Linked DNA regions of Homo sapiens. The protein of the gene in region 2 purifies or fractionates together with the protein of the main gene of each other region. This does not show direct contact. Each region holds a gene or a part of one and is shown on either strand. Other genes may lie near its edges. The genes, in order: ERLIN2, NCSTN and EEPD1.

Region 1 (3,749 bases), on a different chromosome or scaffold from region 2:
GCTGGGATTACAGGTGCCTGCCACCACGCCTGGCTAATTTTTGTATTTTTAGTAGAGACGAGGTTTCACCATGTTGGCCAGGCTGGTCTTGAACTCCTGACCTAATAATCCACTCACCTCAGCCTCCCAAAGATCACAGGCGTGAGCCACCGCGCCTGGCCAGACTTTCTCTTATCTAAGTATACCCATGGATTCTGCTGTCTTTTTCTTTTTTTTTTTTAGACAGAGTCTCACTTTGTTGCCCAAGCTGGAGTGCAGTGGCACAATTATGTCTCACTACATCCTCAACCTCCCAGGCTCAAGCAATTCTTACATCTCAGCCTCCCAAGTAGCTGGGACTATAGGCATACAACCACCACACTCAGCTAATTTTTTTCCTTTTCTTTTTTTGTAGAGACAGGGTCTCACTATTTGAGACAGGTTGGTCTCAAACTCCTGAGTTCATGCAATCCTCTCACCTCAGCCCCGCAAAGCGCTGGGACTGCACTAGTGGGTTCTGCTGTCTTTATTCCATTTAGCCTATGTGCCTATTTTTCTCCTTGCAAAAGCATGAACAATAGTTTTATGTTTTACCATCAGGCTTCCTAGAATATTAGGATCTAGCTGAGAGGAAGAAAGGGATCTGTAGCCATGGCTGCAGCACATGTCACTCTCTATTATATGTTTATAGGGCTGAAGGGAAAGTTGACCCTCATGATATTGATCTAACAGAGCCTTCTTGCCAAACTGAAGCTGCCTCTCTCTTCCCCCTCCTCTGCAGAGGCGGTGCCCTGCTGACTTCGACCAGCGGCCCTGGTTTCCATCTCATGCTCCCTTTCATCACATCATATAAGTCTGTGCAGGTATGCTTGGCCTCTGTGGTATGGCTGGACGACTGCAAACTTGGGCTGTTAACTAGTGCATGATTTGAAATTATTTAGCCATTGGATGAGTAAAATGCCATTCTAGAGAATGATATAAGGATAATATATACATATTATATATATATAATATATATATATATACACACATACACTATATATATATAAAATGAGGCTGGGGATTATTCCTTCAAGATAAAGCCAGAGAAGAACCTGTTCTGAGTATATGGAAAGAAAAGTCAGGGTTTATGTGTGTATGTTTTAAATCACAGGCTACCATGTTAAATGGAAAGAAAACATAGTAATTTTGCTGATTCTTATTTGAATTCAGAAATACGAACATAATTTTTGCAGTGAGTGGGGAGGAGTTAAACTAAGTGAGGGGAGGTGACATCTAAAATAGGAGTGAGGTTAGTTGTGGCAGATCTAAAGCCTGGCTAAGTTGGACTTGCCATCTCTGAAGTATGTCCAGCTAAGAAGAATAACAAGATTTTACACTTTACACTGACCCAGGAGAATGTCTTGGGATACCTGCTAGGCATTTTCCCTGTAAGTTTCATGTGCTGTTTACCAGGCTTTGTGGCTTTCAAACTGCATTCAGGTACATTGTCTCATTTGAGTCTTGTAGTAATCCTGAGAATGGGCTGAGCATGTGCTAGGGTCTGAGACAGGTTAAATAGGTAATCTGCTGTTTCAAAACTAGTACAACAGCCCTCCCCCTTATCCACTATTTCACTTTCCACAGGCTCAGTTACCCACAATAAACCATGGTCTGAAAACAGGTGACTACAGTACAATAAGATATTTTGAGAGAGAGAGAGAGAGACCACCTTCAAATAACTTTTATGACAGTATATTGTTATAATTGTTCTATTTTATTATTGTTGATCACTTACTGTACCTAATTTATAAATTAAACTTTATCATAGGTATGTGTTATAGGGTTTGGTACTCTCCCCGGTTTCAAGCATCCACTGGGGGCCTTCGAACATAAAGCGGTGCCTAACATAAATAGAAGAGGTAGAAGCAAGCACAAGTCTTAAGATGCCCAATCCAGTGTCATCTTCACTAAACCATTATTACTCAGCTTGTTGATGTGGTGGTTCACTTATAGTGAGGCTGGGGCACGGGCCTTTACTTGGCTTAGCAACCCTGTGAGGAAGGAGGATTAGGTGGGGTAATCATGTTTAATGAAGGCCATGCTCAACCCAAACAGTTATTCCAGGACAAAGGCATTTAGGATTCTGAAAAGTAAGTTACTTTGTCACTGCCCATCTTCTAGCACTTTATGTTTCCTCTGTTTCCAGACCACACTCCAGACAGATGAGGTGAAGAATGTACCTTGTGGGACTAGGTAAGGTACCCAGAATAAAGCTTTTAAGCCCAAATAAGTCAGAGAAAAGGCTGTCTGGCTGGTTGCAGGAAGAGACAGTGAAAAGGGAGGCACCCTTTCTTGGTTAATTCCCTGTCTCGTAGCTCCCTATATTGATTTGACCAGGTGATGGAGTGCAGTAGAGGAAATCATAGAAGGTTCAGGAGGGGCTAGAATGCTGTATGTGATAAGGAGTTTGCACTTACTCTATTAGAAGTGAGGATCGGCCGGGCGCGGTGGCTCACACCTGTAATCCCAGCACTTTGGGAGGCTGAGGCAGGTGGATCATGAGGTCAGGATATCGAGACCATCCTGGCCAACATGGTGAAACCCCGTCTCTACTAAAATACAAAAATTAGCTGGGTGTGGTGGTGCATGCATGTAGTCCCAGCTACTCGGGAGGCTGAGGCAGGGGAATGACTTGAACCTGGGAGGCAGAGATTGCAGTGAGCCAAGATCACACAATTGCACTCCAGCCTGGCGACAGAGTGAGACTCCGTCTTTAAAAAAAAAAAAAAAAAGAAGTGAGGATCACTAGTCACAATAACAAAGACATGGAATCAACCCAAATGCCCATCAACGATAGACAGGATAAAGAAAATGTGATACATATATACTATGGAATACTATGCAGCCATAAAAAGGAACAAGATCATGTCCTTTGCACGGGACATGGATGGAGCTGGAAGCCATTATCCTCAGCAAACTAATGCAGGAACAGAAAACCAAACACCACATGTTCTCACTTATAAGTGGGAACTGAATGATGAGAACACATGGACACATGGAGGGGAACAACACACACTGGGGCCTGTCAGTGGATAGGGGGTGGGGAGAGGGAGAGCATCAGGAAGAATAGCTAATAGATGCTGAGCTTAATACTTGGGTGATGGGATGATCTGAGCAGCAAACCACCATGGCACACGTTTACCTATGTAACAAACCTGCACATCCTGCACATGTACCTCTGAATTTAAACAATGGAAAATAAAATAAAATTTTAACGTTAAAAACAAAAAAAGAAGTGAGGATGCACAAAGGTTTTTAGCAGATAAATGACCTGATACAAGAAGATAACTTGCATAACTAAAGAGAATGTCATAAAGGTAGGGGAGACCTTCAGGGCAAAGAGATCCGAAGAGAACACTGCTACAGCGGTCCCACTGGAAAGCAAAGACAGTTTAAACTGGGATAGAGTGACAAAGAATACCACAAAGAAACACTCTGACAAATCCGGAATTGGAACATCCCACAAGATCGCAGGCCTGATCTCTTCACAAAGTGGTTGTATTTAGAGGGATGCTGGATTGGACAGAGACTTACAAGAAACATAAACAGAAGCAAGGGTGAGCATTGATTAGAACCTGGTTCAAAATTAACAGCTATAACAGATACGACAGAAACTATATGAGTCCACTCAGGCTGCCATGACAGAGGACTACACACCAAGGGACTAAAATAATAGATATTTTCTCACCATTCTGAAGGCCCAAAGTCCAAGATCCGGGTAACAGCAG
Region 2 (3,749 bases):
ACAGAAGATGCGCCACAACACACGGCTAGGGTGATCCTCTTCTCACTCGTTCCCTCTACCCTCTATCAGTGCCATGCTCTAACCAATTGAGCTAACTGGCTGCTGTCCCTTTACCCTTCAGATGGTCCATTTTCACCCAGGCTTTTCAACACCCAATTGCTGAGGACTGCATCTCTCCACCTCTCCATCCCAATCCCCTGGGTCTAACTAGGTCTAGAAGAACCTCCAACTTTCCCAAGGGAAAGGGGCCCCAGGGCACTTCCAACACCCACCACCACTCACATCCTTGTTTTCACTTGGGACTTTACTTGGATCCTGGCACTGCTCTCGGGTGAGGTTGACCACTGTGCCAGTCAAATTTGCCAAGGCATACTGTACAACATAAGTGGTGTTGGTGGGGCTGGAGACAGCGATGTAATGTTGAAGAGGCCCGTCACCTGAGTGCAGACCAAAGGGAAGGGAAGATTTGGTGGGTGGATGGTGGGTGAAATAGGAAAAGCCCAAGATTGGCAGCAGCCAGAAAGAAGGGCAATGGAAAAGGATCCATCAAATATGAGAAGAAAGAAAGGAAAACAGGGGGTAAGAAAAACAGAGAGGAAAAAGAAAAAAAATAATAAAGGTTAAACCAAAAGACTTTTTCTCTATCCCTTTCCTCAGCTAAGGGTCCCATTCCCACACCAGATGCTTACCCAAGTAGGACCTTAGGTCCTGCCTGAGGATAGACTGGAACCATGAGTTGTTGGCTTTAATCAGGAACCCATAGAGCAGGCGGGTAACCTAGGATTGGAACAGTAAAGAGAGAAAACCCTGTGACTTGAAGGGAGCCCAGGGAAAGAATTATCAGTGGAGACCCAGTCATGGGGCAGGAACCAGACTGGCCAGATAGACTGGAGTTGGGAGACAGTAGCTGGCTCATAAGATGCAGATGAGGCCCACCCAAGAGCTCTCTGGGGCATGAGGCATTCTCACCGGCATCAACAGTCATGTGGAATTCCAAGGTTTGGGACACTAGGGCAAGGGAGGATAGGGACAGCTTGCTGTGTAAATAGAAAGAAGGAGCTAGGGCCCATCTGCTTACCGTTTGGGGATCAGCCTGAACTGTGTCGCTGAAGTTGGTTCCTCCTGCAAGCTCATACAGAGCACGTCCCAGCACCGTGGCCACATCTGCCAGGGCCTGTGGTAGGTGAGGAGGGGGCTGAATGGCCCACCTCTCCTATCCTCAAATGCTAGCATCTTCACTGTGTGCCCCAGGCTCCCACCCAGCCTGGCTCAGTGCTACCTTGGCAGTGTCTGTTACAAAGTTCAGGTCCTCTTCAGGGCTCAGCCATTCGGGATAGCTCACATTAATGTTCTCAGCAGTGTCGTAAATACTCTGGTAATATCTGCCAGGAAAGCCGGCATGAGCCTTGGCTACATTTAGCCAGGGCTCTGCCCCTTTCCTCCCTCAAATGCTCCTTATGCAGGGACTCAGTATCTCATTTTCAGCATCAGAAGAAAGGGGTGAGAGACAATCAGGATCCCATATTGCAGAAGGTGTGGAGAACAGGGAGGTAGGAGTGAGGGTGAGGTGGTTAGTGAAAATTAAAGACTTTCCTGACAGACAAGGTAGAAAAGCTGAATGAGCTCAGATCTTTAAACAAAGGAGAGACTCTTCTACATCATTTGGGCTGGAGATATGGGGGATGGCTAAGATGATTTTCAGAGAACTCTGCCATGTATCATGAGATCAGTTGTATAACTGTTCCAATGAACATTTATATTTAGGGTAGCTGGGAGCAGGAGGTGATTAGCAGGTCTTAGGATCAGGTCTGCTCACTGATATATAAGAATACACTGATAAAATCACCATGATGATCCTTATGGAGCCCCAAGGAGATAGATCTTAAAAGAGAGGCTGAGCTCCACAGTCTTTACCATCAGTAAATCCCTGTCCCACACAAAGTCAAGTCAGCTACATAATCAAATCCAAAATGTGTTCAAATGATGAATCTTCACTTGCCCCAAAGTGGTACAAGGATAGCTTTAGAGAAGACAGCTGACCCTAAGTGCTAGGACGGTCACTCCCCTAAATGAATGAGAAGGTGCTACTTGGCTGGGGTCAGAAATAGAGCTCAAGCATTTTCACTACGAAACTCATTTGGCCCTCGGGAAGCTTGGCAATCCAGCCTGAGTAAGAAGTCCCCTGTTATCCAAGGCCTCAAGTTAGGAGCAGTTAAAGGGTAACCCAGAGTTACCCTTTGTATCTCTGGAGCCCCATCAGCTATAGGAGGCACTTTTACCCTCGCACTGAACCATGGCCATCTACCACATGGCAAGAACATGGTACATTTCACAGAGTATGAATACTGTTTCTGGCACCTCTGGGTGAGTTCCAGAGAAGGACTGCTTTCTGTCTTCTAGCCAAAGGGCCCCCACCATCCTTCCCATGCTTGTGTTTGAGATGATGCCCTCTGCTGGCAACCCTGAGGAACTCAGGACCCTGGAGAGCTAGGGAGCAGTGGAACCATAACCAAGGATTGTTGACAGTAAAGGGCTAAGGGTGAGGATGAGTTTCTAAGATGAATATCCAGTCAAACAAATAAGGGTTTCAGTTCAGATGTGAAAACGCCACTGAGCAAAGAATACAGATGGACCTGAAGTTCTGGAGGGGGTAGTGTGGGAAAGCGGAGGGCAGTGACCTTCCTCCCAGACTGCAGAATAGACTCTCTTCAAGAATGAAGAGGGTGCAGGGCCAAGTGATTCTTACTTGTTATGGAAGGCACCAGAGTGGTCAGCCAGAACAACGCCAGAGATGTTTCGAGCTCGAAGAAATCGCTGCAGGGAAGATGGTGGGAGAGGCTGGGACTGATTTGGCCTCCTGAGGATGACAGCAGGGACACCAGCACCACTCTTCTCCAATGTGGCCAGGAGATCCTCCACCTGGGGGGTACGAGGGAGATTAACTGATGGGAGGCTGGGGGATGGGAAGCAGGAGGTCTCTTTTAGGCCTGAAATGCTCTATACTTCAAGTTCCCTGCTTGGGGAGCTACCCTATCTCTAGTAGACCTTTATCCCTCAAGCCTTTTGGGACCAAGGCTCTCTGAATTTCCTGTAGCTTCCACCATTCTTTTTAGAGTTAGAAAATTGGGGCATAAAGAAGAGACCTTTTTTTTCATATTTATAAGTAAATTCTACTGTCTTCAAGACTCTGCTTTATCCTCAGTGGATGCTTCACTTATTATTTATTGTGCAGAATTGAAGGGAGCAAATAATAATAGAAAACTGCGTGCTGAATGCCAAACAGATAACCAATTCTTTAAATGCTACAGGAGTCCAGAGCAGGGATGATGCTGAAGGCTGGAATTGCAGAAAGAGGACCACCTGGAAAAAAGCAGGCCTAAAGGTGGACCTAGAGGGAAGGGAAGGTTTTGAACAAGCAATGAGGAAAGTGGAGGACAAGTTGGGCAGCGAGTGTGACACAGCCAGGACTTGGGTAGAGCAGCCTTGACAATTGGATCCATGGGGCAGCAAGGCAAGAAGGGAGCTAGTCACTCACCTATCCTTAATGGGCAGTGGTAGTCTGCTAGGCAACAAATGATCAGAGAACTACCCAGTCCAGGGAACCAATGGAATGTCACTGAGTTCCTGATTCTTCCCAGCAGCAACAACAGCTGTGGTGTTCATCCTTTGGCCAACACCCAATCCAATCCTGTCTCTTACCCTGTCTCACAGGCCCTGGGGGTTGGTGGAAACAGGGCAGGGGTTGGGGT
Region 3 (3,749 bases), on a different chromosome or scaffold from region 2:
GCATCCATAGATGAGGTCACGCACAAGTTGCCTTCACACCCAACACCCATGGTGGTTCCTGTCCTCACCTGTTTTCCAGGAGTGTCATGCACACCACCTCTCGCACCCCGGGGTTGTTGGCCTTCTCCACGGAACAGCCCTGCAAGTTCCAGGTGGCCAGCCTCAGCACAGGCCTCCCATCCCTTGTGCCTCCAAAGGCCTCCACGGACGGCCGAGTGGAGATAATCTGGGTGGGCCCCCCTGGCGGCAGGTCCAGGTCCTCACTCTGCAGGCTCAGGGAAGTGGGGCTCGGGTGAGGCTTGGCGGTGAAGGTCAGTCCCCCGTTCGTGTGGGTGGATGGGGGCCTGGACCTCTCAGCAAACACCTGGTGCCGGATCCTGTCCAGGAAGGCGGCATTGATACCATCCATCCTCACTAGGTCCTCAACGCTGCGAAAGGGCCCATGCTCACGGCGGAAGTCCACGATGCTGAGGGCCATTTTCTCCGAGAGGCCTCGCACGCTCATGAGCTGGGCCGGGGTGGCTGTGTTGATGTTAACACGTGGGGTGAGGGGCACAGCTGTGGCCAGGTGGTGAGGCTGCTGCTCCGCTAGCAGGTCCCGCCGCAGGGAACTGGGAGAGTGCTGCGCTGAGCTGCCCTTGCTGCTCACACAGATCTCAAACTTGACCTGCTCCAGCTTGGTGGCGCCTACACCACTGACCAATGCCAGGTCCTCCACCTTCTTGAAGCCACCGATATACTCTCGGTACTCCACGATGCTGCGTGCCACGGCACGCGTCACCCCAGGCAGGGTCATCAGCTCCTCCTCCGTGGCAGTGTTGATGTTGAGCCGCTCCTGATTCACTAGAATGTTGCTGAAGTTACAGGCTGCGCTGAACTTGCGGCTATGGGACAGGTCCGAGGGGTCCCTGGGGATGGAGCGGTGGCAGCCCAGGGTGCTCCCCATGGTCCGCCAGGATCAGGCTCCCGGGAAGGCCGCACCACTGCAGAAGAGCTCTCTGGCTAGGGAGGAAGCCCAGTAGGCCGTACAAGCACAGAAAAACGGAAGGTGCAGGATTCAGGGACTGAAGAGGTTACTATAGACAAACACCGAATCTTCCATGCCTGGCGTGTCCAAAATTACCTTTCACTTGGCCGCCTAGAAAATAAATCAATAAACATAGAAACCCATTGAATTAAGAAATTTGCATTAGCACCCCCTACCTAGTGCTAGAGTTAGTAACCAGGAGTCGGGGACTGGTGGCTGCCCGTGAACCCCTAAAAACGCAGGCACAATGAGGCTAGGCCCATGTGGATTCTCCTCTAGGGACGTCCGGGTTTTATCACACTGGAGTCCAAAAAGGCTACGAGCCGCTTCTCTTGGGAAGAGACCTATCCCCATCAGCCTCATGCCTCTCCTCCAGGCCTCTCTCAACTCTGACACTTGGGTCACCCACACTTGGGCTCGCGCAGACGGGGTGGCCACTCCACCTCCCCCACGCTCCGCATCTGACACAGCGCTACCTGCAACCTGGGAAGTCCGTGCTCCCCGGAGCGGGCACTGAGAAGGGGCTTATCGACCCCCCACCCGACCTGCCGCGGGTCCCCGCGCCCCACCTCTCGGCCGCTCTGCGGGGCGCCGGTTCCTCTTCCACCTGCGGCTCGGAAGCCTGAGCCCAGCCCGGGACAGCACGGGCCCCCTGCCTCCAGCCTAGGCGTCCGCGCGGGTGTGGGTCACTGGTCAGGCCCTGGAAGCCGACTACGCCGCTTCGGTCTGCGTGTCCCGGCTCTTTCTATGGGAGAAACTTAGCATCGCTCTCCCAGAGTGAATAGAAGCCGCAGGGCTGCTCGGAGGCGGCGGCAGCGGCGGCGAAACCCGCCGCCGAGGCTGCACCGGGGCTTGCGGCGGCGCCGCCGCAGTTGCGTTTACCCCGGCAAAAAGTCCTGCGCCCAACTCGGGCGGGGATCCGCCAGAGCCAGTCCAGACCCAGCACCAGCCGCACGGCTCCCGCTCGCAGTCGGTGTCAAAGCCAAAGTCCCGGCCGCGCCGCGCCGCGCCGCTCGCGCCTCCGCAGGCACCGCGGCCACGCCTCCTCCGCGCGGCAACTCCTCCCCGGGACTCCCGAGGGCACGTGGGGGAGGGGCCCTGGCGCGGGGCGAGGCCTGGCACCAGTGGGTGGAGAGAGGAACCCGAGAGCGCAAGGGCGGGCCTGGAGTGGGAGAGGCGGGGCCATGGAAGAGGGGGCGGCATCAAGGCTCAAGAGGGTGGAGAACGAACCAGAGAGCGCGAGGGGAGGCCCTGGCGTGCGAGAGGAGGAGCCATGGGTGTGGGGGCGTGGCCTGGCACAAATGGGTGGAGAGCAGAACCCTGGAGCGCGTGGGGCGGGCCTGGAGTGCGAGAGGCGGGGTCATAGAGTGTGGGAGCGGGGCCAGGGCGCGATGGGGTAGGAAAAGCGGGGGCGGGGCCATGAGCGCGGGGGTAGGCCCCGGGAGCGCAGAGGCGGGACTTAGGGGGCTTAAGGGGCGGAGCCGGCGCCGTGCCGGCGAGGGCGGGTCACAGGGAGGCTGTCCTAAGTCAGCTGCCCCCGGACCATGGTTGCCGCCCGGGGCCTAGGACTGGTTGTGCCTGGTAGAGGCTGTTTAGGATTGCCCGAGGCGAGATCTGCTCAGCTGCTTTTCGTCTGTCTTTGAGGTGTGGGGATGAAGGCCGGGGCAGTCCCTGAGAGTGCATCGCTGTAGGTCCAGGGTCTCACGGAATTTTGCAGAACGTTCCAGAGGAGACTGAATGGGATCGTCTTAATTTCTGTCCCCACTTTCGGCCTTTTCTTTTCTTCCACCAGTGTATTACCTTTGCTCCGCTCAGAGAGATGTCCTCTAATAACGCCAGCGACGCATTGTGCTCCTAGCAGAGGGCACGCACCACCCTCCTGTGTGTTCGCATAGGTCAAATACAGGTTTGCTCCTTTGCACATTTAGCGCTGTGAGTAAACAAGGATAAGTTTTTGTAATATTAAGTCTAATCATTACGAAGGAGGGAAATGGGGGCTGCTTCCCAAAACCCAGAAGAGTTTTTGCATCACACTGCTAAATGACAATTTGGTTAAAGATTAAAGAGCCCTCTGCATTATAGTGGATACCTAGAGCTAGAGTATTCGATTAAGCAAATCATGCGGTGATATCGTTGAATACTTTGACCCTGGACGTTTAGTGTTCTCTGAAGTTTCATCCCCAACCAATGTGACCAGTGCATCTGGTTTCAATTCCAAGGACTGGGTCAGCAAAAATAGTACCTCTCACAGGCGGAAGGTACTTTGGTTGTAAAATTAGCGGCAGCCCAAGTTTGGAAAATGCTACTGCCTTTCTGAGGCACATTCCCCTGCTATGTATATTGGTCAGAAAACCAAGTCAAACTAGCTTAGACCAAAAAAAAAAAAAAAAAGGTCGGGGGGAAATTTTTGGTTCCTTGTTGAAAAGTTAAGGTAAGGAATCTTACCTCAAGTCTGGTTGCATCCGACCCAAGTGATGATGGGGTCATTAGGACATGGCAGGACTGCCTCCATCTCTGGCTCCACGGTTCTCTTTATTGGCTTTATTTTTAGGCAAGCTATTTGCACTTGATCGCAAAAATGCCTTGCTACCTACCATCATCTCCCACCCAAACACTGGGCTACATTATGCCACGCACTGAAATCCTGGTGCGGTAAGGAAAAAACAGTTTAAGACAAGCAGGAAAACAGAGAAAACTCTTCGTTGAGCAGAATGCCTTGATG

What was found.
Region 1: the proteins of NCSTN (region 2) and ERLIN2 purify together in Homo sapiens (affinity purification with mass spectrometry; 2 studies listed by BioGRID and IntAct, with this or other methods). This does not show direct contact.
Region 3: the proteins of NCSTN (region 2) and EEPD1 purify together in Homo sapiens (affinity purification with mass spectrometry; 2 studies listed by BioGRID and IntAct, with this or other methods). This does not show direct contact.

What each region holds. Positions count from the first base shown.
Region 1 is NC_000008.11:37,739,605-37,743,353, forward strand, and holds part of ERLIN2 (erlin-2), read left to right. Parts: intron 1-760; coding exon 761-842; intron 843-2,167; coding exon 2,168-2,214; intron 2,215-3,749. UniProt on the Homo sapiens protein: Component of the ERLIN1/ERLIN2 complex which mediates the endoplasmic reticulum-associated degradation (ERAD) of inositol 1,4,5-trisphosphate receptors (IP3Rs) such as ITPR1.
Region 2 is NC_000001.11:160,353,288-160,357,036, reverse strand, and holds part of NCSTN (nicastrin isoform 1 precursor), read right to left. Parts: intron 3,715-3,749; coding exon of another isoform or gene 3,706-3,714; exon of another isoform or gene 2,943-3,705; intron 2,920-2,942; coding exon 2,747-2,919; intron 1,383-2,746; coding exon 1,280-1,382; intron 1,175-1,279; coding exon 1,079-1,174; intron 778-1,078; coding exon 690-777; intron 438-689; coding exon 283-437; intron 1-282. UniProt on the Homo sapiens protein: Essential subunit of the gamma-secretase complex, an endoprotease complex that catalyzes the intramembrane cleavage of integral membrane proteins such as Notch receptors and APP (amyloid-beta precursor protein).
Region 3 is NC_000007.14:36,151,522-36,155,270, reverse strand, and holds the start of EEPD1 (endonuclease/exonuclease/phosphatase family domain-containing protein 1), read right to left. Parts: upstream 2,018-3,749; 5' UTR 1,597-2,017; intron 1,139-1,596; 5' UTR 947-1,138; coding exon 69-946; intron 1-68.